Linked DNA regions of Homo sapiens. The protein of the gene in region 4 purifies or fractionates together with the protein of the main gene of each other region. This does not show direct contact. Each region holds a gene or a part of one and is shown on either strand. Other genes may lie near its edges. The genes, in order: DHRS7, SARAF, NDFIP1, OR10H2, CLTCL1, DAGLB and ANO5.

What was found.
Region 1: the proteins of OR10H2 (region 4) and DHRS7 purify together in Homo sapiens (affinity purification with mass spectrometry; one large-scale study listed by BioGRID and IntAct). This does not show direct contact.
Region 2: the proteins of OR10H2 (region 4) and SARAF purify together in Homo sapiens (affinity purification with mass spectrometry; one large-scale study listed by BioGRID and IntAct). This does not show direct contact.
Region 3: the proteins of OR10H2 (region 4) and NDFIP1 purify together in Homo sapiens (affinity purification with mass spectrometry; one large-scale study listed by BioGRID and IntAct). This does not show direct contact.
Region 5: the proteins of OR10H2 (region 4) and CLTCL1 purify together in Homo sapiens (affinity purification with mass spectrometry; one large-scale study listed by BioGRID and IntAct). This does not show direct contact.
Region 6: the proteins of OR10H2 (region 4) and DAGLB purify together in Homo sapiens (affinity purification with mass spectrometry; one large-scale study listed by BioGRID and IntAct). This does not show direct contact.
Region 7: the proteins of OR10H2 (region 4) and ANO5 purify together in Homo sapiens (affinity purification with mass spectrometry; one large-scale study listed by BioGRID and IntAct). This does not show direct contact.

The regions. Positions count from the first base shown.
Region 1 is NC_000014.9:60,143,261-60,146,622, forward strand, and holds the end of DHRS7 (dehydrogenase/reductase SDR family member 7 isoform 1 precursor), read right to left. Parts: exon of another isoform or gene 1,754-3,362; coding exon 1,706-1,753; 3' UTR 859-1,705; downstream 1-858. UniProt on the Homo sapiens protein: NADPH-dependent oxidoreductase which catalyzes the reduction of a variety of compounds bearing carbonyl groups including steroids, retinoids and xenobiotics.
Region 2 is NC_000008.11:30,072,802-30,077,273, forward strand, and holds part of SARAF (store-operated calcium entry-associated regulatory factor isoform 1 precursor), read right to left. Parts: intron 1,255-4,472; coding exon 1,076-1,254; intron 1-1,075. UniProt on the Homo sapiens protein: Negative regulator of store-operated Ca(2+) entry (SOCE) involved in protecting cells from Ca(2+) overfilling.
Region 3 is NC_000005.10:142,132,626-142,137,097, forward strand, and holds part of NDFIP1 (NEDD4 family-interacting protein 1), read left to right. Parts: intron 1-3,104; coding exon 3,105-3,192; intron 3,193-4,472. UniProt on the Homo sapiens protein: Activates HECT domain-containing E3 ubiquitin-protein ligases, including NEDD4 and ITCH, and consequently modulates the stability of their targets. As a result, controls many cellular processes.
Region 4 is NC_000019.10:15,726,224-15,729,994, reverse strand, and holds OR10H2 (olfactory receptor 10H2), read right to left. Parts: upstream 1,972-3,771; 5' UTR 1,952-1,971; coding exon 1,004-1,951; 3' UTR 943-1,003; downstream 1-942. UniProt on the Homo sapiens protein: Odorant receptor.
Region 5 is NC_000022.11:19,221,661-19,226,132, forward strand, and holds part of CLTCL1 (clathrin heavy chain 2), read right to left. Parts: intron 3,974-4,472; coding exon 3,793-3,973; intron 2,395-3,792; coding exon 2,231-2,394; intron 1,150-2,230; coding exon 1,024-1,149; intron 434-1,023; coding exon 291-433; intron 1-290. UniProt on the Homo sapiens protein: Clathrin is the major protein of the polyhedral coat of coated pits and vesicles. Two different adapter protein complexes link the clathrin lattice either to the plasma membrane or to the trans-Golgi network.
Region 6 is NC_000007.14:6,413,125-6,417,596, reverse strand, and holds part of DAGLB (diacylglycerol lipase-beta), read left to right. Parts: intron 1-675; coding exon 676-756; intron 757-842; coding exon 843-970; intron 971-4,472.
Region 7 is NC_000011.10:22,198,978-22,203,449, reverse strand, and holds part of ANO5 (anoctamin-5), read right to left. Parts: intron 1-4,472. UniProt on the Homo sapiens protein: Plays a role in plasma membrane repair in a process involving annexins. Does not exhibit calcium-activated chloride channel (CaCC) activity.

The DNA.
Region 1 (3,362 bases), on a different chromosome or scaffold from region 4:
ACTATTATGCTTATAGTCTGTACCAGGCCACATGACATATGTTATTTTGTGGCATTCTAGAATTATTCCAATCTTTTCATTCTTATAATTGGTGTGTTGTATTCAATAAATAATGTTGTTATTCCAGTTTTCATCACTGGTCACGCAAGAGTCCTCTCTTTATTATATTTTATCCCCATAGTTCACCCCGTTTCCTCCCCATCCTAAGTAACTATTACCATACCTAAATATATATCTAATTAGGTTGTATGTTTTCTTGCAAAATGAGCACTATCTTCTGTGCACATATATTTGTGTATGTGAACAGTATTGTGTTAGCGTTGCTTCTTTATTTCTTCACTTATGACTATGCCTCTAGTACATATCCATGTTGTTATGTATGCATTTATTCCATTGCTTCTACCCGCTATACCTCATCGTGTACCTCTACCACATGTCATCTTCCCCCTTTTCCAAGGACAGCCACTTGGGTGGCTTCCAACTTGCCCAACAACTATTCTACAGTTATTTTATGTATGTTACTTTGGCTCCAGCTCAATTGTGAACTGCTTGTAGATAAGGACCATGTTTTTCTTTACCTGTTACTCCTGCTGATTTCCTATTAGTGCCTGTGCATGTTTTCTGCTGTAAGGTGTTAAATGTTAAAGTAAAATTAATAATAGTAGAAGTAAGGAGTTGCCAGTGGAATCTTCCTGAGCTGAATCTAATCATGGCTTTACCCCTTACTAGCTTTGTGACCTTGACCTTGGAAAAGTAAAACCTTGTTGGTCTTTCTTCATCTATCAAGGTAGGTAATACCATCTATCTTAGTGGGCTGTTATGAGGAATGAGTTAATTAACTAATACTAAGCACTCCAGTACAGTAGAAGACATACAACAGGTGTTTAATGAATAATAGGTGCAATGAATCCTACCTGCTGCTTCAAATTACAGCCATCTGTACCTGTCAACTTTTCTAAGAGTATAAGCATCTTGGAGGTAAGGTCATTTCAAATACTTCTTTATATCTGGTCATTACCCAGCACTCTGCTTTGTGTGAAATATTCTATACATTTATGTTGCTATGGTTTGGATGTTTTTGTCCCCTCCAAAATTCATGTCGAAACTTAATCCCCAAAGCAACAGTATTAAAGGATGTGGCCTTTAAGAGGTGACTGAGTAATGAATGAGATTAAATGCTCTTTTGAAAGCATTTTGCTCCTCTTTCCCTTCTGTCCCTTCCACCATGTGAGGACATACATTCCTCCACTGTGGAGGATGCAGCAATGAGGTGCCATCTTGGAAGCAGAGATCAGCCTTCACCAGACACTAATTCTGCTGGTGCATTGGTCTTGGAATTCCCAGCCTCAAGAGCCAGGAAAAACAGATTTCTGTTGTTTATAAATTACCAAATCTGTGGTATTTTGTTATAGCAGCACAAATGGACTAAGACAAATCTGTTAACTTAGATTTTAAGCATATGTGCTAAAGTATTTTAAAAGGTTATTTTATCCAAGAATATAGTATGAGTTAATACCTTTTTTGCAAGATTCATGGCAATCTTTTATTATTTATTTTTTATTTCATTCCATGTTGGAAGCAAAGTCATATCTATTAAAAAGTAAAATCACAAATTAGTCTTTGATTATTCAGAAGCATAAGAAGATTGCTGTTTTCATGTTTTCCATTTCTCCCTCCAGTGGCTTGAAAAGTACAGGTGCTCTTTTCAGTCATGTTTTGTCTTAAAGATTTTAAAATAAGAAGAGTCTGCATCCTGTAAAAGAGGGACAGAAACATGGATCAGTACCTACTCCTATTTACTCCAGTTTTTAACATTTAAGTCCTTCTGTTTTGAGGAGCTGTATCATTATGATTCACTATTAAGAATCTTTACAAAAGTTCAGAAACTGCTTAAATTAGAATTTAAAAATCATAGCCAAAATTCTAGATGTACACAAAAGTACTTCTAATGAGTTTAGCATCATCTCTGGTTTAGAGGAGGTATAAATAGCATTGGACTGCAATGCTAAATTCTCTATAATGACTTTTCTGGATCAGCATATCATACCTACACTGACTTGCCCTAATAAATAAAAACAATGAGTCAGATTATGTAGAATTGAGATATATGGAAGATAACTCTTTAAAATTATTTGTGGCCAGGCAGGCACTGTGGCTCATGCCTGTAATCCCAGCACTTTGGGAGGCCGAGGTGGGCAGATCACCTGAGGTCAGGAGTTAGAGACCAGCCTGGCAAAACCCCATCTCTACTAAAAATACAAAAATTAGCTGGGTGTGGTGGTGTGCACCTGTAATCCCAGCTACCCGGGAGGCTGAGGCAAGAGAATTGCTTGAATCCAGGAGGCGGAGGTTGCAGTGAGCTGAGACTGCGCCATTGCACTCCAGCCTGGCCAACAAGAGGGAAACTCTGTCTCAAAAAAAATAAAAAGAAAAAAAAATTATTTGTGAACTTTTTGTATATTGCTTAAGGAATAAAACAAGGCAACCTGATAATCCCCAAGATGTGATGTTTCTTTTCAGAAGATATGCATTTACCACTTTCAAAACTTTGCACTAAGAAAGACAAAATAATAATAATGATAATACAAAATTCAGTGTAGCCACTGTTCTTGATCCCTAAAAATAATAAAGATTCATAAAAACAAAGTTCCAGACATACAGACTAAAGAAGCAAATTCTAGTTAACAAGTACTATTAGCTTGAAATAAGCTATGCTAGCATTTTCTTAACTTAGACGCTTATCAATAAGAAAATTTATATATATACATATATATAAAATATAAAATAGTGGGAGAGAGGAAGAGTACAGACTATAAAGAATGAGGTATTATGTCCTAAAAATTGCTTTGAGAAATGACAGAATGCCCAGCTTATAATAAAGAGTGACAAAGTAGTAAGACTATATAATAAGCAATATTTCAAAGATGGTGGTAGGAAGAAAAAGGCTGTCATTTTTTTAGAAAAACCTAGATGTAAAAAAAATGCGAGATTTGCTAAATGATGTTTATATTTTACAGTTAGATATTCTCTAAACAAAACAAAATATCCTTCATATGGACATTTCTGGAAGTACTACTACAGTGGGACTGAAATTCTCTAGTCCCTGGTCCCTCTTTCCCCTTTGAAAAAAAAATCACTTCTATAATATATTCTTTCTCTGCCCTATTATTTAAATTGAGAATGTGAACCAGTACAGACATTATGGAAAATACGGAAATTCCTCAAAAAATTAAAAATAGAATTACCATCTGATCCAGCAATTCCACTTAAGGGTATAAATCTAAAGGAAGTGAAATCAGTACCTTGAAGTGATACCTACACTCCCATGTTCATTTTAGCATTATTCATAATAGCCAAGATAT
Region 2 (4,472 bases), on a different chromosome or scaffold from region 4:
CCTTTAAGTCCCAATGGCTCCAACCAGACGTGACTTTATAATGTTGTGTTGGGACCTACATGTAATCTGAGTGCCTGTCTTACCTCTTCTACTAGTAAGACAGTTTCTTCATTCTACCTTATTCATTTTTGTATATTGCAATTAATACATGCTTAATGAATGACATCACCATTACTGCCTTTTTTTCCCATCAAGACTCTAAAAGTCATAAGTAAAGTGGAGTGAGACTTCTGCTATAACCCAGAGAATTCTATGATTCAACTTAGCAGTACTGGGGGAAAATATTGTGAAGTAAGTATCACCCAGTACACATCAACTTCCTCTCTGAATTGCAAAGACCACGCATAAAGGTTGTATCAAACAAGAATATCATTCTGATGGAGAGGGGAAATCGTCAACATAAGTTTCTTGCCTTGTGACCAGTCGTCTTAAATCAATTTTGAAAGCAGTCAGAATACAAAGTAGAAATATGTAACTAGTGATTTAAACTGAATTCATTTAATAAAATCTATCTCTAAAGCATATTCAGTTTTGGAACTTCAAGGAGATGCTCTGCTCGTATACAAAACACCAGCGTCCCAAAGGCAATCAATGAAACCTGCCGAAATGCTTCCTTTCAAAAGTAACCACCCTCAGTTCTAAGACAATTTTAAAATCAAGTGCTAGAAGCACAATAGAGATATATGAACCCCTACTATTTACGATCTATAATTCCTAATTATCTTAACTTTGTCTTAAGGGTAGGTTGGTATTCTTTGAGGAACGACAGGAAAATGACAACCATAAGATATCCCCTATCCCTCACCCTCAAGTATATAAAAAGTTGTGAAAATTTACAAATATCTTAGAAGGAGGTCACGATACAAAAACTAAAATGAGTATTTTCAGGCTTTAAAATCAGTTCATTTCTTTTGGAGGCCATTTCTTCCACAGGAAGAGTGATTGATTTACTTACATATTTTAGGCTGATCTGAGATTTCCGTAGGTGCACCCTCAAAAGACTGAATAATGTCCCAATAAACAATTTACTGAATAAAAACCCCATTTAGACTGCCATTACTGTAGTGGATATTACCTGTACATCATACCCATCCCAGCCTTTGTTCTGACACTGTATGACTTTTGGGGTATAAGAATCACAACCAGCTGTGCCTCCAACACATTTCAACTGTGGGATGGGATCCAGCCTGCGGGAGGTGGTATAGCGGTCATAGTGGAGGGTAAGAGCTTTTACATCCCGCAGCAACATTCTGTCTGAAACAGCAAGAAAACAGAGGAACACAAAGTAAGTATCGTGTCAGAGAAAGAAAGGTTCATCCTAACGAAACTCTCGTCATAGGAAATGCCTTTCTTGCCTTCTGAGGATGGCTAAGAGAGGATGAATCTATTTCTCAAAACTATCCCAACAACATTCAGGCCTTCTGAACAAAATTCAGGTCACACTTTTAAGATCTCCCTGCATTTCAGGCCAGATGCTTCTACAGCACAAGTTGTACATCATTTTTGCTAAATCAAAAGAACAAAAAGTTCATTAACCTGAAACATTGTACTACTGTGTAATAATAATAGTGGTTAATTAAAATGGCAAGAATATAAGCATGTTCCTGAAGCACATTTAATGCTTTAAATGTCCATCAACAGGTGAAGAAATTAACACATTCTGACCTATTACAGTGGAATATTACATAGCAGTTAAAATGAGTGAACTAGAATTCATGTATCAAACTAGATAGATGGCAAAAACATTTTAAACAAAATACAAGTTGCAGAATGTTTTGTATGACAGCTTTACATAAACCTTTAAAAAAGGCAAAACAGTACTACATACTGTTAATGTCTATATATGTATATAATAACAACATGAAAACATGTATGGGAAGGATTTAACACCAAATTCAAATAAGTATCTAGTCTAGGGAGAGAGAAAGAAAAGAGATTTTAGCTCTATTCCTAATGTTTTATTACTGGGAGTGGGGGATTTGTAGCAAATATGGCAAAATATAAAGATTCAATAAAACTGGGTGATGACTATGTGTAGGTTCATTGTACACTTCTGTATGTTTAAATACTTTAGGTATTTCATAATTTTAAAAATCAAAACTATTTAAACTATTTCACAAACTAAAAAATTTAAAACATACTGACAAGAGACTTTGAAAGGAGGAGTCAAAACAATAAAATTATGTCTGGCATTCATGTGCAAAAATGAAATTTTTAGGTTGGGTGTGGTGGCTCACACCTGTAATCCCAGCACTTTGGGAGGCCGAGGCACGTGGATCACCTGAGCTCAGGAGTTCGAGACCAGCCTAGCCAACACGGCGAAACCCCATCTCTACTAAATATACAAAATTAGCCGGGAGTGGTGGCACATGCCTGTAATCCCAGCTACTTGGGAGGGTGAGGCAGGAGAATCGCTTGAACCTGGGAGGAGGAGGTTGCAGTGAGCCAAGATCACACCATTGCACTCCAGCCTAGGCAACAAGAATGAAACTCCATCTCAAAAAAAAAAAAAAAATGAATTTCTATGCATTATTGGAAAATAAGGACAAAGTCTTCCTATTTATCATGTTGTGGATTATTGATGGAAGATGCTGTGGATTGGCTCAGTCAACATCCACTTCACCCTCAAACAGGTATGCCTTCCTGCAAAGCAAAAGGAATCCCAAAACCTCTTGCAGCTATAGTTGCCAAAAGCAATTTCAGTTCTGCCAACCAGAGGGACTCGAGCAAAATCTGGAAAGCAGACCCTAGACTTATACAGTGCTCTGTCCTTCAGCTAGTAAACACAGGCATGGAGACCATGAGTTTTCAAACTGATAGTATCCTCTAATCAGCTTCCTGGCTGTCATGAAGCTTGACATGAACAATCTATTTTTCAATGTGGCAGATGTAATAGGCATCGCTTTCTACCATTTTGTGAGTACCCAATTCCCTATATTCAACCTGTCAGATTAGCAGAATTTGCAGCCTCCCAAAATTCTACTAAAACTATAATAAATACATTGTTTTGATGATGTGAATGACTGTGGTCAGGTAAAACGAAAGAGGAGATGACAGCAGAATTTTGGAAGGAGAAAGTAAATGGACTAGTGGTAGATGACTAGACCTAAGTGAAAGACAAATGCCAGAACAGCAAAGGGGGAAACTGAGAATCAACCTGATGTACATAACAGAATCCCTAAAAAAAAACAAAAAAAAAAAAACAAAAAACGGGAAATGGCAGCTCTGGAATGGGAGATGCCTGGAATACACACTACAGGGTGAAAGCTACTTGAGAGGAAGCCATATTCCCAGATCCTCTCCCCAACTCCACACTGTTCTAACTCCCTCTTCCCCACTAAGGAAACTGTCTGGAGATGTATTCTCTGGAGAGGATAAAACTGAAGGGATTTGCATTGGGGACCATCTGGCATAGTAAAGGGCATGGGGACAAAAACAACCAAACAGGGAACCCAAGTGACTGTGTGCACTCTGACTGCTGAAAGCACAGTTCTCCTTCCCCACATGGTGCACAAAATGCTAACAGCCATCCCCTTGTCCTCTGTGGGAGACTGGATGACTATTCCCTTGGTAATCTAACCAAGAAGAAGTACCTAAATACACTGACATCAGGAACTTCCTCCAAAAAAGAGCAACCTAGGTCACCCTGTTGTGAAGTTCAAAATCAAAAGTGCAACTGCACACTGATAGCTTCCAATGAGCTTTTTGGTTCCCCAGAATTAACCATGAGCAGGGAGCCAAGGATTACTAAAAATATGAGGAAAGTCCCTGCTATGGTTTGAATGTGTCCCCCAAAGTTCACATGTTGGAAACTTAATCCCCAATGCAACAGTGTTGAAAGATGGAATCTTTAAGAGGGCTCTGCCCTCATGAATAGATTAATGCTGTTCTTGCAGGACTGGGTTAGTTATCGCAGGAGTGGACTCCTGATAAAAGGATGAGTTAGGCCCCTTTCCCCTCTCTCACTCTCTCCCTTCTGCCTTCCACCATGGGATGACACAGCAAGAAGGCCCTCACCAGATGCTAGCACCTTAATATTGAACTTCTCAGCCTCCAGAACTGTGAGAAATGAATTCAGTTTTTTAATAAATTTCCCAGTCTGTGGTATTGTGTTACAGTAACATTAAACAGACAAAACAGCCCCTAACATGAAATACAGCAACCAGGACAAAACAACAACAAAAGGAAGCAGGAGGAAAAAAGAGATGACGCACAAGAAGAAAACTTTTTTAAAAACACTGTAATATCCTCAGAGAGATAAGAGAAAAAGACTGCGTTAATAAAACAATCATTTTTAAAAGGGATACTCAGAGAAAAAACAAGAGCTTTTGGAAATTAAAAACAGGACAGCCAAGATTAAAAACAACAGAACTGCCAGGTGCAGTGGCTCATGCCTGTAATCCCAGCACTTTGGGAGGCCAAGGCAAGCAGATCACTTGAGCCCAAGAGTTTAAGACCAGCCTAAGCAACAT
Region 3 (4,472 bases), on a different chromosome or scaffold from region 4:
ATGTTTCCTTGATTCTGCACACTTAATATTTTGCTGTTGGGTGGATAGCTGCTAGGGAGGTCTAGGAAGAGAATAAATATATGCAAATTTGTAGAATTAAACTCATAAGAGGGATCTTCACATTGATTTAGATGAACTCCGTTCTTCCAGCAGTCCAGATCATGTCATTTGTGGGGACATAGTGAGTTCAGATTCCATCTAGCCTGATGTTGATTCATGGAGGTGGAGATTGGGATGCCATATAAACCAGTGGAGATTATTGGGCACTCTTGGTTCTTGATGTCAGATATGTGAGTGCTGCATTTGTCATTTTGTAAATATTCATCCAGATTGAGGCTGATGAAGGTAGGGCATTGTGGGAGAATGGAAGCAGGATAAGTCCCCAGAAATGCGGGGACCATCAGGCCTCTAGGCTCTATTCTAGCAAGTAACTGGAGTGAGTGATGAGCAAGTACAGAAGCCTAGTCTGGGCAGTGTGATGGCATAGGCCCAGATGTTCCCCTCTTGGCTTTAAGATAGTAGACAGTTTGCAGACCACACCTACTGTGAGGAGCGAAGCTCCTAAAATCATTGCTTGGTAGAAATAGTTTATGAGCCCAATCTAGGATGATCCTAAATGGCGATGATGTGCATTCAGTTCTTACAGGTACCAGGGAGAAACTAAAAACCCTAGTGTCTAAGGGCAAGACCATCATAATGTAACTGCCGTATATTGGAAGCAAACCACATGCTTGGTACTGTGCTTGATGCTTTTATATATTTTGTATATTGTTTCCAATCTTCATAGTAACCTTGAAAGGTAGAGATTATATTATCTCCATTTTACAGATGTGAAAATTTAGGTCCAGAGAGAAAAAGTAATTTTCCCAAAGTCATATGACTGATAAGTAGCAGAAGTGAAAGTCAAACCCAGATATTCTAGAATCCAAAGTCCTTGTTTGTTTCACTGTACTCTGCAGATCTGTTGCAATATATGGTAAATAGATCAGTATGGAAATTAGCTCTGATTAATCACATAACTCTTCAGAATACTTTCATTTGATACAAGTACATATTTAGGAACTTCTTAAAGGGCTCTAGTATTCAGCAGACATGTATAAAGCACTTTTTAAATATAAGATGCAGTATATTTTACAGTGGATAGGTAAAAAGCTTTGTATAAGGCAGTGTTCCTCATTGTTATTCAAAAGCCTAAAATCCAACTAGGGTAAAGGGCCCACAAATACTGATAACTAAGACACATAAGAGCAGTGGGCATCAAGAACTGAAACTTTTTACTGGGTGATCATAGGGGAAAATGAGATTTGATGTGGGCCCGGAGTTTTGATGGGTAAGAACATTCCAGAGGGAAAAAGGCACAGAAAGCAGGTGTGAATTCAGCCAGGTGAAGGCAGTTCTGTGGATGTAGTAATTGGCTTTGTATGAGCAAGAGTTTGTGAAGGGAGATAGAAAGTCCTGACTACAACTGTTGTTTATAGAATCTTTGGAATGTTAGATGGGCGTATTTAAACTTCATATGTAGCTTTTAGAGAATCCTTCAGAGTTTTTGAGCAGGGGTATGAGAGGACTTGTGTGGTGTTTTGGAAACATTAACTTGGCAGCAATTTCTAGGATGCATCATGGTAGAAGAGATACCAAGAGGACAGGAAGAACAGTTAGAAGGTGTTCGTAATATTATTAGATGTTACTTCCATATATTTTTTGGAGTATATCTTTGAATAGTTATGCAAAAAACAATTAGCTTTTAATTTTGGCAAAACCTTATTCTGCTGATACGAAGTAAGAATACTAGGTATTTAATGTTTTAAAAAATTAATTATAAAAATTCGTTTTTATAGAAATTTCAAACAATAGAGGAAGTATGTTAAGTTAGAAAAGGAAGCTGCCATTGCCACCGACTTCCCTTTCTCTAGTTCCCACTCCCCAGGGGAACCACTGTTAACAATTTGGGTCTTCCAGACCCTTTTCTGTGTACAACAAGTTTTGATATTCCCTAAAATATTTTTCATTTAAGGAGCCCTCATTGAACTGTGTACAAATCTATCACTTTTAAGTATATATTCAATTATTTTTAAATATCTCAACACACACCTATATCAGTTAAAAAGATAGCCCACATGTGTTGGTATTGTTCATGATCATGTTATTTCTAGTTTTGCAATATTACGTTATCAAGTTAGGATGGAAAAGATCTTATCTGCTGATAAGGTTAGAAGTGAGATTTAGATCTGTATACCAATACAAATACATGCTTATGGAGTTGAGCAGTGGGCAGTTCTGTGGACTATTCATGTATGATCGTACTATTCTTTTTTCCCCTATATCAGCCTCGTAAAGCACTTGAGCTGGTTGATTTTATCTTTTTTTTTTTGAGACGGAGTCTCACTCTGTTGCCCAGGCTGGAGTGCAGTGGTGGGATCTTGGCTCACTGCAAGCTCTGCCTCCCGGGTTCATGCCATTCTCCTGCCTTAGCCTCCCGAGTAGCTGGGACTACAGGTGCCCGCCACCACTCCCGGCTAATTTTTTTGTATTTTTAGTAGAGACGGGTTTCACCATGTTAGCCAGGATGGTCTCGATCTCCTGACCTCGTGATCTGCCTGCCTTGGCCTCCCAAAGTGCTGGGATTACAGGCATGAGCCACTGCACCTGGCTGATTTTATCTCTAATTACTAATATTTTAGGTCCTAAACAGGTCCTCGATTACTGATATTCTAGAATTTAAACCAAATGTGTAAGTAAATTTTGTCTTTTGTCTTTTCTTGAGGTATATTTTTTTAAAGGAAGAGTAAATAGTTCTTTGTGAACTATTCTTGAAGTGTATTGTTTTTGAAGTGTATTAAATTTTTGAAGTGTATTGTTAAAGAACTTGGGTTATAAGATGAAAATTTCATTTAGAACACTGGGGATAGAAGAAAGATTTGCTTCTTTTCTAATTATATATTAATAATGCAAAATGGAATTTTAAACACACATTGAGCCTTTAATGCTCATAATTTTGAACTGAACCAAAGCAATAACTTTTTTCCTTGCTACTCAAATTTAACCCTTCATTTTTCTTTATGTCTTCCCTTTGCCTAGAAATAATTCTTTTTCTTTTCATTTAGGATGAGGATTTTGTGGGTCGGGATGATTTTGATGATGCTGACCAGCTGAGGATAGGAAATGATGGGATTTTCATGTTAACTTTTTTCAGTAAGTATGTATGCATATCAGAACCACCCCCTACAAACTAGAGTGCTTTGGATTATGGGTGAATCTGACTGAATTAAAATAACTAGTTGAGCTAATATATTAATACATTATGTTTATTTGGTGCCTTTTACTGGAATATTCAAAGCTTAATATACCTTTGTTTTAATATCCCTTCTCTTTGCCTTCTATTTTCATGAATATCTGTGGAAAATATAATTAAAGCAGTTATGAGGATGCTGCATTTTTACATGAGCTAAGCCTCATCTTCCAGGTCTACGGGGCCCTTTTGCGTTGCTTCTACTCATACTTAATCTGTAGAATAGGAATTAAATGCCTTTGATGAATTTTGCTCTGAAAGCTTCTTTTTTCTGACAGATCAAAGTCAGCCTGATTTTCTCCCTTCATGTTACTTGCCATTTATCTTTTTGTGTGCCTCACATAGAAGTGAGCAACCATTTCCTTTATTTGTTGTATTAGAAAGATAAGAAAATGCAATGCTTTTAGAGGTGATGTTATATAAGTTGTCAAAATTCAGAGAACAGGAGGATGAGTGACTTGAATCAGATTATTTGGGGGCACTTATTTAATGTTGAAGGCATTTATTTTATTTACTGGACTATATATATATAACACACACAGTAAAAAGCAGAGGTCAGGCTGGGCATGGTGGCTCATGCCTATAATCCCAGCACTTTGGGAGGCCGAGGCAGGCAGATGCCCTGAGGTCAGGAGTTCGAGACCAGCCTGGCCACCATGGTGAAACCCCATCTCTACTAAAAATACAAAAATTAGCTGGGTGTGGTGGCAGGCACCTGTAATCCCAGCTACTCAGGAGGCTGAGGCAGGAGAATCGATTGAACCCGGGAGGCAGAGGTTGCCGTGAGGTGAGATCGCACCATTGCACTCTAGCCTGGGGGACAAGAGTGAGACTTCGTCTCAAAAAAAAAAAAAAAAAAAGAGGTCAAAGGCTGGGCACAGTGGCTCATGCCTGTAATCCCAGCACTTTGGAAGGCTGAGGTGGGCGAATCACCTGGGGCTAGAGGTTCAAGACCAACCTGGCCAACATGGAGAAACCCCATCTCTACTAAAAACAAAAATTAGCCGTTAGCCGGGCCTGGCGGTGCACGCCTATAGTCCCAGCCACTCGGGAGGCTGAGGCAGGAGAATCACTTGAACCTGGGAGGCAGAGATTGCAGTGAGCCAAGGTCGTGCTACTGCACTCCAGCCTGGGTGACAGAGTGAGACTCAGTCTCAAAAAAAAAAAAAAAAAAAAAAGCAGA
Region 4 (3,771 bases):
ATATTTACAGTTGTCCATTGATGTGAAACGTCCAGAAAAAGCAACTCTAACCAGACAGAAAGATTAGTGGCTCCCTAGGGCTGGAGGGCATGGAGATTTGGAGGAAACAGAGAGTGACTGATAATGAGTATGGGTTGTTTGTTTGTTTGAGACAAGGTTTGGCTCTGTTGCCCAAGTCAGAGTTCAGTGGTGATCATGGCTCACTGCAGCCTCGAACTCCTGGATGCAAGCAATCCTCCCACATCAGCCTCTGGAGTAGCTGGGGCTACAGGAATGTGCCACCCCATTTAGCTAATTATCAGAATTTTTGTGTGTGTCAGGAAGGGGAACATCACAGACTGGGGCCTGTTGTGGGGTAGGGGGAGTGGGGAGGGATAGCATTAGGAGATATACCTAATGTTAAATGACAAGTTAATGGGTGCAGCACACCAACATGGCACATGTATATGTATGTAACTAACCTGTACGTAGTGCATATGTACCCTAAAACTTAAAGTGTAATAAATTAAAAAAAAAAGAACTTGTGTGTGTGTATGTGTTTGTGTGTGTGTGTAGATGGCATCTCACTATGTTGTCCAGACCGATCGTGAATTCCTGACATCAAACAATTCTCCCACTCAGCCTTCCAAAGCACTAGGATTTGGGTTTCTTTTTTGGATGACTAAAATACTCTAAGCCAGATTGTCATGATGGTTGCATAACTCTGAATACGCAAAAACCACAGAAATGTGCGCTCTAATGGGTACATTGTATGGTAGGTGAATTACATCTTAATAAAGCTACTATAACTCAAAAATTAAAACTCAGATAAAGACATACAGATCAAGAGTTGTGGAAGTAAACATGCTTTTAACATTTACTGAGCACCTACTATGTGATGAGTGTTGTCATATACAGAAATCTTTACACCTGCCTTACAAGGTAAGCATTACTAGCCACACTGTGCAGACAAGGTGATGGTCATCCTCCTATCATATTCTATCAGCACTTCCACACCAGCTACTCAGGTGCCTGAGGAATAGAGTGTGCTGAGGAAGGTCCTCTTCATGGCAACCTTCAGTTCTTTGTTCCTGAGGCTGAAGATGATGGGGCTGAGGAAGGGCGTGAGGACTGCGTAGGTGGTGGCCATCAGGGTGTCACCCTCCTGAGAGTGGGGACCTTTGGGCTTGAGGTAGATGACAGAGGCAAAGCCATAGTGCACAATGACCACAATAAGGTGAGAGGCACAGGTGGAGAAGGCCTTGTTCCGACCTTCAGCAGAAGGGATCTTCAAGATGTCGGCCACGATGAAGGCATAGGAGAGGAGGATGAGGAGAAAACAGCCCAGCAGTGCCATGATACATACCAAGCCCACGCCCAGGGCCACAGCTGGTACATTATTTCCACAGGCCAACTTCAACAGAGGTGGCACATGACATAAAAAATGCTGGATCTCATGGGATCCACAGAAAGTCAGTTGGAAAATGGCCGAGGTCACCACCATCCCCATGACCGAGCCACCAGCCCAGGAGCAGCCCACCAGGCAGGCGCAGCCCCGTGGGCTCATGAGCACGTTGTAGCGCAGGGGGTGGCAGATGGCCACGTAGCGGTCGTAGCCCATGACGGTGAGCAGGAAGGAGTGGGTGAAGCCGAAGCTGAAGGAGAAGAACATCTGACTGGCACAGGCCAGGAAGGCGATGGAGCGCTGGGTGGACAGCAGGTCGGCCAGCATGCGCGGGATGATGGCCACGGTGTAGAGGATCTCGGAGACTGAGAGGACGCACAGGAAGAGGTACATGGGCGTGTGGAGGCTGCGCTCGCTCCAGACGGTGGCCATGATGAGCAGGTTGCCCAGCAGCGTGAACAGGTACATCAGCAGGAACAGCAGGAAGAGCATCAGTTGGAGGTGGGGGAAGGCAGAGAAGCCGACGAGGATGAATTCAGACATGGAGGTGTGGTTTAGCCCCAGCATGACGGCCACCCCTAGTTGGGGAAGAGAGGAAAGAAGACCCAGTGGTTAGGAGCATGGGGGTGTCTAGTGATTCCTGCCTGGGAGGACATCTGAGAGCGCCTCCTTCATCTGTCCAAGCCATGGTTACTCCATCTGCAGAAAGGCATTAATAATAATGTATTGAGGTTTAAATAAGATCACTCACCTTAAGTGCTTTGTGCAGGTCCTGACACAAAGTAAGAATTTAATAAATTATAAATGTTGATAGTAATAATTATTCTGCTATTGTTATTGCCATCACGATTATTAGATCCATGCACCACCACCTACACCTTGCTTTTCTGCCTTTGTTCATGCTGGTCTTTTCATGCTTTTCCCTATCTTTATGGGTCCAAATCCTACCTGAATTTTATGAGCAAGCTGCTCCCTGATTGCCACCTTCAGCTGGAAGTCATCTCTTCCCTATGTCATGGAAACGTCCAGACTCTGTTTAATTCTCGGCACCACTGCTTTCTAGCTGTGAGATGCAGGGCAGGTTGCTTCCCCTCTCTGAGCCTCATTGCTCCCCTGGAAAATTGAAACCACCTTTGCAAAATTATGACTGAGACAGCGAAAGAGATCTAACTTAACCAACTCCATCTTGCTTCTAACCTCCAAGCTGTCCTTGTTCATTCCAGGACATAGGGTGAACTAACTTTGGGGGAAATTTAGTTTATAGTTTATAGTTTATAGTTTGGAACAAGGACGATAACAGCCCTTTCCCAAAGCAGACCTCCTTCTTGTCTGGGGATTAGATTGCCTTTGTAGAACTAACATTAGCCACAAGATTAGAAATTATGGTTTAGGAGTCATGCAGCTGGAGGCTACAAGATTCTGACCCTCCCTAAATTGCTCCCAAGATCAGTGCTTGAGATATTTTGCAGATCCTGCACTTGATGGATCAGCTGGCACCACCCAGGTCGATAAACTGGCTCAACTGATCTTGTGGCCCCCACCCAGGAACTGACTCTCCGCAAGAAGACAGCTTTGATTTCATCTCTGACCAATCAGCACTGCTGGCTCACTGGCTTCCCCTCCACCCACCAAGTTGTCCTTAAAAACTCTGCTCCCCAAGTGCTCAGGGAGACTGATTTGAGTAATAATAAAACTCCAGTCCCCTGCAGAGCCAGCTCTGTGTGAATTACTCTTTCTCTATCACAATTCCGCTTTTTTTTTTTTTTTTCTTTGAGACAGAGTCTCACTCTGTCCCTGCTGGAATGCAGTGGCATGATCTCGGCTCACTGCAACCTCCGCCTCCTGGGTTCAAGCAATTCTCCTGCCTCCGCCTCCTGAGTAGCTGGGATTACAGGCCCGCATCACCACACCTGGCTAATTTTTGTATTTTTAGTAGAGATGGGGTTTAACCATGTTGCTCGGGCTGGTCTTGAACTTCTGAGTTCAAGTGATCAGCCTGCCTCAGCTTCCCAAAGTGCTGGGATTTATAGGTGTGAGCCACCATGCCCAGTCAAAAACTTCTTAGCAGAAAATGGTTATGGTCCACTGACCTCTAGGCTATGGGCCCAGCATGCTTCCACTACGTGACTCTGCTGGTCTCCTCCTCTTTTTGACCCCAACCCCAATCCTCCAATCCCAAACCTAACAGCAAAAACCTAGGCTATCAGCCATGGCTTCTCTCATCACCTTCCCTGAGTGGCCACAGAGTCAGATCTGCCCAATTTCTCTGCCAGGGCAGCTCTCCTCCCTGCACCAATAGGAGCCCTTCTACTTTATTTAGTTTATGGAAGTTCCCCAACAAACTAAACTAGGAGGCTGTGACTCCTCTCCCACTCTCTTTCTTGCCA
Region 5 (4,472 bases), on a different chromosome or scaffold from region 4:
CTTGAGGGCAACTCCAGGGCTCTGACAGATGTTTCCTGAAACAAAAAATCTCAGAGTCCATTGACTTCAGGTTGCTCTAGGGACCAAGATGGACCTGGTTTCCAAACTGATTTCTACTGTTAGGTTTTCCCCCAAGGTCTTCACAGTACCAATAGCAAGTAACTCATTGCTACATCTAAGATGTGTACATGAACGACCAGCTATAGAGACAGTCCTGGAGAATTAGACAGAAACAACAACAGACACTAGAATCCAGGGGTAAGAGAAAACACCAAGTAAGGACACCTTACCTATTTCTTTTTTCTACTTCAGCCACCAACTCATCAGTAGAGAACTGTCCTCTCACTGCCATGATTAAGTGTTTAATCACTTCCTCAGAACAATCCACATCAAGCAGCCCTCCAATCACAGCTGGGGTCCGGCTAGGGTTGACCTAGGGTAGTCAAGGTCAAGTAACTTCAGTGTTGCAAACACAAGTTATTGTTAGAAGCCTCCTACGACGTGGACAGTTTGGGCAAAACCCTGAAAGGGCTCCTGTTTAGCACTGCGCTGTGTCCCACCAAAATTCACCTGCTGATGTCCTAACCCCTAGTGGGATTCTACTTGGAAAGAGGGTGTTTAAGAAGGTAATCAATGTCAAGGGTGGGGCCCTAATGTAATGGGACTAGTGTCCTTCTAAGAAGAGGAAGAGACACCAGGAGTGCACATGCACAGAGGAAAGGCCCTGTGAGGGCACAGCCAGGAGGCTGTCTGCAAGCGTGGGAGACAGCCTTCACCAGAAACCAGCCCTGCCGACACCCTGATCATGGACTTCCAGCTTCCAAAACTGTGAGAAATAAATGTGTGTTGTTTCAGCTGCCTGGACTGTGGTCTTCTACTCTGGCAGTCTGAGCACACGAACCCACCACCCTTCAAAATGATAGTCTCTGAAATGTCAGGTGTTACAGGCAGCCTCTGAGGGGAAGACTGCCACTGACTGGGGCCCAGAGGCAGCCGGGTGTCACTCCAGGGAGCCAGCAGTACCTTCTGCACGTAGATCTCAATGTACCTCTGCAGGTTGTTGCGGTATAAATATAGGACAAGGTCATGGACAAAGCCAAAACGATCACACACGATGATGAGGGGAAGCTGGTCTGTGAGCTTGGCCTCCTGAGGATTAGAATGCACAGAACAAGTCAGGGAGTGGAGAAACCAGACAGCCAGACCTCGGACTCATTGCACACATGGGACGGCTCTGTCTCTGCAGCAGAGTGACACACAGGAGACTCAGAATGAGACTGCTCTAAATAGGCTGTCGTTTTGTGGTATGGCATTTGCTTTGGGAAATAAGTGAGAGAAAGATATTAGTATTTGGTTAAAGACTGCTACATTTGGCATTAACATTCCAAATCTGGACAAAAATATCTTTTAAGACAAGCAGCTCATTATGTGCAAACCCAACAGAAACCAGGCCATTCTCAAGAACAGCACACCTGCGGTAAGGGCTGCCTTTTCAGACACGCAGCCGCAGGCCATGGAAACACACCCGGCCACCATTCCCAGATGATGATGGCACTTGGGTAGGACAGCCACAGGCCACCACAATCATGCCTCCCCTCATGTGGTCCCGTGCCTAGATCACATTTTGAAGTTTTAAGTGTGGCCACATGACCTCATTTCCTCCAATGGAACGTGAATCCAAGTGTCATCTGCCACTTGCAGGCCTCGCCCATAAAAACCACCTATGCTGGTTCCTCTGTGCTCTTCCCTTCCTCTAGCTGACTGGGAAGACGACATCCAGGTGAGGTGCTGAACACGGCAAAGCAGCCATGAAGCTGGTCCTTGAAGTACAGTGGGAAGGAAAGTCACCCCACTGACCTCCAGCCTACCCTGGACTGCCACATAAGGAAGTAGGCTTCCTGTTCTTTATGACACTAGTGCTGAGTGGTCTACTTGTTTCTGCAGCTTTGCCTGCCTAATTGACAATGGCACTAATGGGATGTTGATGAATTACAATGCAGCAATAAGTGCCAGATACTTAGAGCACAGCCTCAAGCTGCTTTCCACACTCTTAAAACGATAGAAGGGTTACTTTAGAACTTTAAGCCATAAAGTGGAGCTCTGTCCCTGGGACTAAGGGGTCCCTGGCGAGACAGATCCAGCTTCCTGCCCCTGGGACGTCCTGCGGATGGTCTGCCCCACCTGCCATCAGCAAGGGCAGCTCATGGAAGGAGGCAGCACTGGAACACACCTTCAGGAAGTTCTTCACACGCTCTGGGTTGTAGCAGCTGCTCTCTCGGCATATCCTCTCCACCTCCTTGATCTGCCCTGTCTTACAGGCAGCCTGAATGTATTTCAGATGCACATCTGGGTCTTGGCTGAAGTTCACGATTGAGCCCAGGAAGTAGAAGAGGCCTATGAAGAGAGACCATTCCATTTTTGTCCTTGTAACACCTGCCTGTCTCCTCCGTAGCTGCTGCCCACCTTCCCTCGATGACCCTGCTCCACTCTCCAGGGACCCACAGCACACTCAGAACTCATAATCAATATGCCATTTGTCTGTTTTGGCAGCTCCCAAAAATAGCTAGTCGGATTTCCATTATATTTGGCAGGTATACCTGGCATGTTTTGATGTAAAATACTAGATATTTGGTACAAGTGAAATTCCTTTTGTGGGCCCAGGTATACCTAGATAGTCGTCATCAAGAGTAATTCCCACTGAGGTAATCTGAAATGGTGGTGGGACTGCTTCTCTAAAAAGACACATCAAGGGACAGAGAAATAAGCCATGGCCTCCAGGAGGAGGCCTGCAACTCAACACAGAGCTGACAGTGACATGGGCACCACATGCTGAGCCCCAGGGTGAGCCCCAGAGGACAGCATTCACAGAGGCTAATGATGTTCCTCATCATTACAGAGGCCAGCCAGGAGGCACCAGTAACAACAGGGTACGACACATCTGAGAAGGCCCCTCCCTGTCGAGGTCTTTCACTGTAACTGTGAGACCCTGATGCTAGGAAGGGAATGGGCAGCCCCTGGGCTGACGGTTCTCCACCAACCTACTCTACTGCCCTCTCCCAGCCCAGCTCCACTCAATCGTCTGCCATGGTCTTTCCTACAGGGGTGTCTTCTAAAGAGAAGGCCAGTTCCCTGAGGACAGGGTCATGTCCCACCCTCCACCGATGCCCCAACCTCACTGGACACATGGCAGTGGCTTGATGCCTAGACAAATGCTTAGTCTCTATCCTGGGTGGGCCAGACAGCCCCCATCTGTCCCTAACAAAGCCACTCCCATCCCAACTGCCCTAGAACACTTTTTTGGTGTGATGTCCAAGAAGGGGAAAGGAAGACAACCAGGTTACCTTGTCAGCCCCCCACAATCAACTGGGTAGCAGACACCACAAAGCAATGCACCCTCTATCGTGGGCTCTCATTTAGGAGAGGCCCAAAGAGCCTCCCTCCTGGGGCTGTAAAGACCAGACATCAGGCCCTTTCACTGTACCCACGACACAGGCTTTTAGATGAATTCTTGCCAGACTGTGCTGCGTAGACACACCGGGCTCCATAAGTTTCTCCATCCCATCACCAACCAACCTGATTTCTTCCTTTGGAAATACCAAAAAGGTTACTGAAGCTGAGGGTGCACATGAGATGGCAGTAGCATTCTGCCACCGACTGAGCACCCAAGGCAGCCAGTGCTGCATCCTGCCTGGCTTTGCAGGAAGGCCGTCTTAAGGCGGGCAGGTAGGCAGCAACACCTGAGAAAGGAGGTGTAGTCACATGGTGGGGTCGGCGAGAGGCTGCATGGTTTACCTTTGTAACTCTTGAAGGATTCAAAGAGCTCCACCAGGGCCTGCGTGCCCAGCTGCTCGTGGTACTTAGAGGCCACCTGCACACACAGCTGAAGGTTCTGTCTGATGTTAGCAGACAGCATGGCATGCAGACACTCCACAGAATCCTCCACCGATAAGGAGCCAAAGAAATTGACAAGCCACTGGGAACAAGGAAGAGTCTGTCCACAACGATGCACCACTCTAAAGATTGCTAACACTTGGAAAATAACTAGGTCATTCTCCTGTTCCCCTGAGTGTCAAAAATACAGAGAATTTCCACATAAAGGGGTTGAAAAGCAACTATCCATCACGGGAAAAAGTAGGAGCAAGGAGTAAAGCTGGGAAAAGACACTGATCTAAACTGTTCACCTGGAATATTCCACAGATGATGCTAAAACTTATTCCATAAATTGGAACACAATAGCTAGTTTAGCTTTGCTAATGGTTTCAGACAGTCCTATTAGGTTGTCAATGTTAAAAGGTGACCAGTATACTCCTGCTATTAGACTAAGTCAAAGGTGGATATCAGAAAGAAAGGTGCTACAGGGCCCAGACATGCTGCTGAGCAGATAAACTTTGTGCGTGGGCTGAATTAGAACTGCTTTTGGTAGTAAAGTATGGTAGGTTAGGGCAGTGACAGGCTCAGGCCACAGTTCCACA
Region 6 (4,472 bases), on a different chromosome or scaffold from region 4:
GTAGAACTTTATGTTTAAATGTTATGTAAAAAGTCTAAATCTGACCAGCCGTAGGAACTTGGCTGAAGTAAATTGTGATATGTTCACACAGCACAAAACGGTGTAGCTACAGAAAAAGCCACAGAAATGTATCTGTGGAAAGATGTTTGGTTGTTTTGGGTTTTTTGTTTGTCTGTTTGTTTTTTGAGACAGGGTCTCACTCTGCTGCCCAGTGGTGCGACGATAACTCACTGCAGCCTGAACTTCATGTGTTCCAGCGACCCTCCCACCTCAGCCTCCCGAGTAGCTGGACTATAGGCGCTCGCCACCAAGCCCCGTTAATTTTTTTTTTTTTAGTAGAGTCAGGATCCAGGCTGGTCTTGTATTTTTATTTTAGTAGAGACTATGTCGCCCAGGCTGGTCTTGAACTCCTGGGCTCAAGTGTCCTCCTGCCTTGGCCTCCCTAAGTGCTGGGATTACAAGCGTGCGCCACCACACCTGGCACCTGCTTCACGTCAGGCGCTGTGCAAGGTGCCAGGAGCACAGCCATGCACGATGGACGTGGCTGCTGATTCTGCAGTCTCAGATCCCAGGAGAGACTCACACATCAGTGCACAGCGTCATCCCATCTTTGAGTCTCTGCTGGGCCTGCCTTGTCTGAGGATTAACGGCCACCTTCTTTGTCTGTGTTTTTAGGGTATTTCTCAAGCTGCCAGATACGTTTACCAACGACTCATCAACGACGGGATTTTGAGCCAAGCCTTCAGCATTGCTCCTGTGAGATCTTAGTTAACGTTTCTTTCCTTGTCCTCTTTGGAGCTGTTGTTTTTACCCTTCACCTCATTCTGCTGTCTGTCCTCTAGGAGTACCGGCTGGTCATAGTGGGCCACAGCCTCGGGGGCGGGGCGGCCGCCCTGCTGGCCACCATGCTCAGAGCCGCCTACCCGCAGGTCAGGTGCTACGCCTTCTCCCCACCCCGGGGGCTGTGGAGGTGAGCCTTTGTTTTCCTGCTCTAACAGCTTGCTACTTACAAGTCATGTGGTCAAGACTCATCTTTTTTTTCTTTTATTTTCCTGAGATGAAGTCTTGCTCTGTCGCCCAGGCTGGAGTGCAGTGGCGTGATCTCGGCTCACTGCAAGCTCCACCTCCCAGGTTCAGGCGGTTCTTCTGCCTCAGCCTCCCGAGTTGCTGGGACTACAGACACCCGCCAGCATGCCGGCTAATTTTTGTATTTTTAGTAGTGGTGGGGTTTCACCATGTTGGCCAGGCTGGTCTTGATCTCCTGACCTCAAGTGATCTGCCCGCCTCGGCCTCCCAAAGTGCAGGGATTACAGGCGTGAGCCACCGCACCCAGCTGAGGTTTGTGTTTTGAAGCGCTATTTCACAGAAGAAAGTCTGTCTAGCCTTTCTTAGACCTATGTGACCATACCTGTAATTTCCTCAATGATTTAATTCTAAGAGTCTTTTTTCAAACAGACTTTATTTTTTAGAGCAGTTTTAGGCTGACAGCAAAACTGAGCAGCAGATTGTAGGGATCTCTCATACCCTCCCTCCCCACAAGCAAGCACAACCTCCCCCATTCTCACAGCCCTGGCAGAGGGGTCCGGTTGTTGACATCCATGCGCCTGGTAGGCACATCGCCCAGAGCCCGTAGTATGCTGAGCACTCCCTCCGCCCTCTCGGGGGGCATATGCCCTGGGTGGGGACACATGCATAATGCACATGTTTAAAGACATTTTTATGAGTTTGAAAATTACTTTTTTTTTTTTTTTTGAGACGGAGTCTTGCTCTGTCGCCCAGGCTGGAGTGCAGTGGCGTGATCTCGGCTCACTGCAACCTCCGTCTCCCAGCTTCAAGCGATTCTCCTGCCTCAGCCTCCCGAGTAGCTGGGACTACAGGCGCCCGCCACCACACCCGGCTAATTTTTTGTATTTTTTTAGTAGAGACGGGTTTCACCGTGTTAGCCAGGATGGTCTCGATCTCCTGTCTTCTGACCTCATGATCCGCCACCTTGGCCTCCCAAAATGGTGGGATTACAGGCATGAGCCACCACGCCTGGCTGAAAAGTTTATATTTTTTTTTGCTGATTCCAGCATACTGACTGTTCTGTGTAACCTTTTGCCATGATTATAAAGGAAAATTATACCACTTTATTTCATTAAAATGAAATAAAGGCCAGGCGTGGTGGCTCATGCCTGTAATCCCGGCCCTTTGGGATGATTAAAAAGTATGTACGTAAAGAACAAAAAGAGCTTTTCTTCGCACACTTGGTTTCTTTGACATATAGTTCACACAGGAAAAAACAGGAGAATGTATAAGTGCTTAAATCTTTCCCTCAATAAAGAAGTGTTCAGAATAATGAATTGTTGCCTAGCAGTCTACAGAGGCAGACATTAATTTTTTAAAACTTAAATTTCAGTCGTCTGTTTTCTTGCTGTCTTTTTTTTTTTTTTAATTGACACAGAGTGTCACTCAGTCTCCCCAGCTGGAGTGCAGCAGCACAGTCATGGCTTGCTGTAGCCTCTGCCTCCTGTGCTCAGGTGATCTTCCGGCCTCAGCCTCCCAAGTAGCTGGGACCATAGGCGCACACCACCACATCCAGCTAATTTTTGTAAGGAACAGGGTCTTGCTATGTTGCCCAGGCTGGTCTTGAACTCCTGGGCTCAAGTGATCCTCCTGCCTCACCCTCCCAAAGTGCTAGGATTAAAGGTGTTGAGCACTGTGCCTGGCCTCATTTTCTTGCTTTCTCAAGAATATTCTCAAGTTTTGGGCTTGAAATGAGCAAGTATTTTTTTTTTCCATCGTCCATATCTGGAATCAACCGTTTCTCCAAGGAATATTGGTTCCTTTTAGCAGGAAATGGTATTTCTGAACTGAAATCGGGGCACTGGTAGTTCTCATTACCACAGGGCTGGTCATAATTTCCAGGCCTTTTCATTGGAAAGAGGTAGGAAAGGCTTTTGTTACACCAAAGAGAAAATGTAACTGTAGTGTATAGTGATACTTAAACATCAGGAGGCTGGGCATGTTGGGTCACACCTGTAACCCCAGCGCTTTGGGAGGCTGAGGCAGGAGGATCACTTGAGCCCAGGAGATCGAGACCAGCCTGGGCAACATAGACCCGGTTCCTTACAAAAATTAGCTGGACGTGGTGACGTGTGCCTGTGGTCCCAGCTACCCGGGAGGCTGAGGCAGTAGGATTGCCTGAACCCAGGATGAAGAGGTTGCCGTGAGCCGAGATCGTGCCACTGCACTCCAGTCTGGGTGACAGAGCTACACTCCGTCTCAAAAGAAAAAAAAAAAAAATTGGCCGGGTGTGGTGGCTCACACCTGTAATCCCAGCACTTTGGGAGGCCAAGGCCGGCAGATCATGAGGTCAGGAGATCAAGACCATCCTGGCTAACACGGTGAAACCCTATCTCTACTAAAAATACAAAAAATTAGCTGGGCGTGGTGGTGGGCGCCTGTAGTCCCAGCTGCTTGGGAGGCTGAGGCAGGAGAATGGCGTGAACCTGGGAGATGGAGGTTGCAGTGAGCTGAGATTGTGCCGCTGCACTCCAGCCTGGGAGACAGAGCGAGACTCCATCTCAAAAACAAAAAAGTCCTTTCTGTCACCCCAGAGGTAGAATGTGGTGGTTTTGACTGGTGTTTCCATTATGTCCATGGCTGGAAGGAAGCGTGTCTGTGTTCCTCTCCTCCTGTTGATGAAAGCCTGCACCTTTTCCCTGCTCTTCTGTCTCTGGTCGTGGCTGTTCACTTTCACCGCATGTCCTGAGATGACCCCGCAGTGGCACACACAGTCCTCCTCCTTCTCCCAGCTGTGCGGGACGCACTATTATGTGACTCGTTGTTGGGAGCTGAAGGCAGTTCTGTGGATGGGTGTTTGGAGGCTCCAGCCTCTGCCGGTGCAGGTTCTGCCGCAGTGAATCGCCTGTTGCCTCTGCCCCTTCATTTTTGCTGGGGCATCTTTTTTTTTTTTTTTTCTTTTGAGATGGAGTCTCGCTCTGTCGCCCAGGCTGGAGTGCAGTGGCGCGATCTCAGTTCACTGCCAGCTCCGCCTCCCGGGTTCATGCCATTCTCCTACCTCAGCCTCCTGAGTAGCTGGGACTACAGGCGCCCACCACCACGCCTGGCTAATTTTTTGTATTTTTAGTAGAGACGGGCTTTTACCGTGTTAGCCAGGATGGTTTCAATCTCCTGACCTTGTGATCCGCCTGCCTCGGCCTCCCAAAGTGCTGGGATTACAGGCGTGAGCCACTGCACCCGGCCTCCAGTGCATCTTTGATGGAGTCTTCCAAGCGCGGTTTCTGGGTCAAAGGACAGATCCATGTGCTTGGTCCGCCTTGGTGTCCAGTTTGCGGTTTTAGCTGCGGGGCGTCTCTGTTGAACACATATTGTGGCTTTAGTAGGATCTGGCCAGTGAGTTGCCATAACTGACGTTTCCCCTACCCTCCCTTTAGAGAAGAGAGAACAGAGCTGAGGCCTGGGAACCT
Region 7 (4,472 bases), on a different chromosome or scaffold from region 4:
CACATGAGATTTCATATTCTCTCACCTTATTTTCCTGAAATCAAACCAGACAGCTTGTATATAGAACACTACCAGTTTCTACACAGGCCAGAGTACTTTCCCGACATACAGATAGCTCCGTAATGGTAATGCATTTAGTCGTTTGCACTAAAATACATGTTCAAGTAAGTTTATGACACTAAAAAAGTTAAATACAGAACTGAAATTCTTATTTTCTAGTGGTTCCAACTTGAAAAAGCCCTAAGATATATTTAAGTCAAAAACTTCCTATATATTTTTTTTGGAGAAAATATCACAATGGGAACCACATAAAATGTTAGCACTTTAAGTTCAAGTTAGTGACCATAATTTTAGAAATACGATAGAAAAACTGGCGAATGAAACTGAACAGAGAGCCCAGAACAAGACACTTTATTATATGGAAACTTGATATTGACCTATTGTAGGGGTTGACTAATGTCTCTCCTACACCAAAATTCATGTCCATCTCAAACCTCAGACTGAAACCTAATTTGGAAATGTAGTCTTTACAGATGTAATTAGTTAATGATCTAGAGATGAAGTTATACTGGATTTAAGGTGGGCCCTAAATCCAATGATGGATGTCCTCCTAAGAAAAGAAGAGGGAACAGAGGCACAGAAGAAGGCAGTGTGAAGATAAAAGCAGAAATCAGAATGATGTGTCTACAAAGCCAAAAAACACTAAGTATTTCAGGTGCTGTAGTCTGAATGTGCTCATGGTGCAGAGCTCTTATGAATGGGATTAGAGCCCTTATTAAAGAGATTCCAGAGAGCTGCTTTCCCTCTTCCATCATGTGAAGACACAGTAAGAAGATGGCATTAATGAGCCAGGAAACAAGCCCTTACCAGACACTGAGTTCAGTACCATGATCTTAGACTTCATAGCACCCAGAACTGTGAGAAATAAATGCTTGTTCTTATAAGTAAAAAATAATAAAATAAAGCAATTGTATAAGTCAAAAAAAAATTTAAAAAATCTACCATTTGTATAGCTTTTTCACAACCCAAGTATGACAGTCCAATTCCTTTTCAAAGATCACACAAATCCCTCAGTTATTCTCTTAAATAATTAAGCCCATTATATACATAAATTTATACTTGACAGAAATTCAACCATTATAGGTCAGCTAGGGAATAAAGTCCAAAGTTTTCTGCAGAGGAATATTTTGAGTTTTGATCTGTACATTGGTTAAAACGAGGCTGTATGTGAAAATAAACACTGGTTTGTAAGAAAGCTTTATTTTATTTATAATTTTATTTTATTTTAAAAAGCAGATTTATGGGTCATAGCTTTGCTAGTATAAGATGGGGTCATTCTTGATATGAGTTTTTTGCCTTTGGCAAACAATAAAATTCTTTAAAATTAACTAAAACCAACCAACCTCTCCAACCTCACCCTTTCACGCTCTTAAGTCTGGCCCACTAGTCTCCTTTCAGATCCTTATACCTTCTTTCAGTTCCATTCTCCCTCTTTGAGGGGCCTTAACACACAATTATTCCTCTGTAAGGAATGCTCTCTGCTATGGATTGAATTTGTCTCCCAAAGTTTATGTGTCAGAAACAATCTGCAATGCAACAATGTTGAGAGGTAGGCCCTTTAAGAGGTGATTAGGTCATGAGTGCTCTGCCTTCATAAATGAATTAGCACTGTTATCACAGGAATAGATTTGTAATAGCAAGAATGGATTTGTTATGAAAGAAAGTTAGGCCATCTCATGTGTGCATGCTCTCTCACCAAGTGATGCCTTCCACCATGTTATGACACAGCAAGAAGGGGCTCACCAGACGTGGTCCCCAACCTTGGACTTCCCAGCTTCCAGAACATGGACCAAATAAACTTCTATTGTTTATAAATTACCCAGTCTGTAGTATTCTGTTATAACAGCACAAAAGGGAATAACACACTCTCTCTCTCCCCACCTTGCCCTGGGTAATTCTTCACATCCTTCAGATATCAGCTTGAAAGTCACTCTCTCCCCAGGGAAGCCTTCTTTCACATATCTGGCTAGTTCAAAGCATCTGATATATCTCTATTTGCACTTGTCAGGGTTTCAATTTTACACGAATATTTGTGCATTTTAATTACTATCTTTTTATCCGCAAAAGAAGATAAGTTTCTGAAAAGTGAGCACAATTTTTGATTTTGTTCTTTTAGCACACTGATTGGCAAATGAAAGACGGCTGATAAACATTTATTGAAAAATTGAATGAGCGAGCTGACAAGGGAGCCAAGTTTTTCACTGTGGCTGCAAATGAAAAGCCAAAATATAATGATAACTTGCCATGCACCAGGCACTGTGCAAAGAGGTATAACAAATATTTACATGGCATTTCCTTTGTATTACATATTATAAGTAATCTAGCAATGATTTAAAGCATGCACAAGGATGTGCATAGGTTATATGCAAATACTATGGCATTTTATATAAGGGACTTGAGCATCCTTGGATTTTGGTACCAGTGGGGTATCCTGAAACCAATGCCTGTGGATACTGAGAGACAACAGTACTCACACACATACATAACACACCCATACAAAACACACCCATACAACTTCTCCTTCTAGGTGATAATTCAAATCCTATATCAGCAATTTTAAAGTACTGTCTGCCATCCCCCATCAAGATACAATTTATTTTACTTTTTGTATGTGTCAAATTTATACATTTTATTTTGTATTTAAAGTTTTATAATAATATTAAAACCATATTTGTCTTTTTCATTCTGTTGACGTTTGCACTGGTGATGCAAAAACAATGGGATAAAACTGCTGGTGCCATCATGTGAATCAAGGCTATGGCACCAGACTATATTAGTAGTCATTATATTCTCCACCATCATGCACTCTCAGTACAAAAAGAAACAAAAATGTAGTTTAACTTAAAAATGTCCTTGATAAACAGTAAAGCTTATGAAGTTTATAAAATCTTGACCCTGAACACACAAATTTTTAATAATCTATAAAGAAACAGGAAGAATGCATGAAGCGCTGATGCTGCATTCCAAAGTACCATGGTTGCCTCATGAAAAAGTACTTTACATTGCAAGGTAAAGTAGCTAAATTTTTCATAAAACACCATTTTAGTTGAAAGTATGATGGGAAAACATATAGAGTCATACAGACCTGACTATTTGTCAGATATTACCTCAAACATTAATGACATGAATCTATCACTTCATGGAAAACACCTGACAGTATTTATTGCCAATGACAAAATTTGAGTTGCAAATGAAATAATTTTTGTAAACTTATGACCGTCACTGTGTGCTTAACAGATTCCCAAGGCATTCCTGATAAGATCAGTGATGATGTTAGCATTACGTTTTGGTATTTTAAAATGAAATATGTCAGCATTTGGAAGATCTGTATAACTCAGTAGATAATTGTTTTCCAAATAAGCAATACATGATGTTACAAAACCATGCATGAGAAAAAGATACATTTAAAGTGAAGGACAGACCAATAGATTTTAATGCAGCAGTGAAATAAAAGTTCATTTCAATGGTTTCAAATTCTACATTATATCTAACTTTAAAGAACCTATTATTCGTTGAATTTGGGGGCAAATCAGAGAAGAATATCCATAATTATTCAAAAACTTTCTAAAATTATCCTCCCTTTTCAACTATAGATCTCTAAGAGGCCAGATTTTTTTCATACACTTCAACCAAAACACAACACATCACAACAGAGTGAATGTAATGCAGATACGAGAATACCTATATTTTATCAGGCCAGAGATCAAAGAGATTTTTTTTAAAGTAGAACAATGCACTCTTATCACTAAATTTACTTTGTTTTAGAAAATATACCTATTTTCATAAAACTATGTTAAGATGAAATAGAAGACTCCTAAGCATGAGAAATTTGAGAAGATGTCCTTTAATAAAATAGGAAAGACTTAATGGTGGGTGACTAATACAGCAGAGGCTACAGGCTACTGACAAATATCTTTCCTCCTCCTCCTCCTTCTTTGCTAATAGAACCTCAATTATATGGTGTAGTAATGTACTCAAGCAAACAAAACATTTCCTAGCATCCATTGCAAGAGTATGACATAAATTCAAAGCTCTCAGCTGTCATAAGTGGTATGTCTATCTCATAATGTTTGTGTAAGCACTAAATAGATAATGCATGTACTTGGCATATAGGAGGTAAGCAGGTGTTATTCTTGTTGATATTGTTGTTATTATTCTATTCTACTGTTAAGCTTCAAAACTGCTGTAAATTCCTTGGGCTAAGTTTCAGAATGTCAGAATAAAATCGAAATAACTCCTTCTGTATTCAGATCTTTGTGTTGCAGGATCTGCTCTTAAAATGTTTTACTCTAAGCAAAACATGAAAACTAACCAACTATAGCTATACCACTTAACTTTCTGAGTGCAGGCTTTCTCATGTAAAAGATACAAATCTAAAGGGAAATGCTTGAAAAATATTAAACATCATGCAG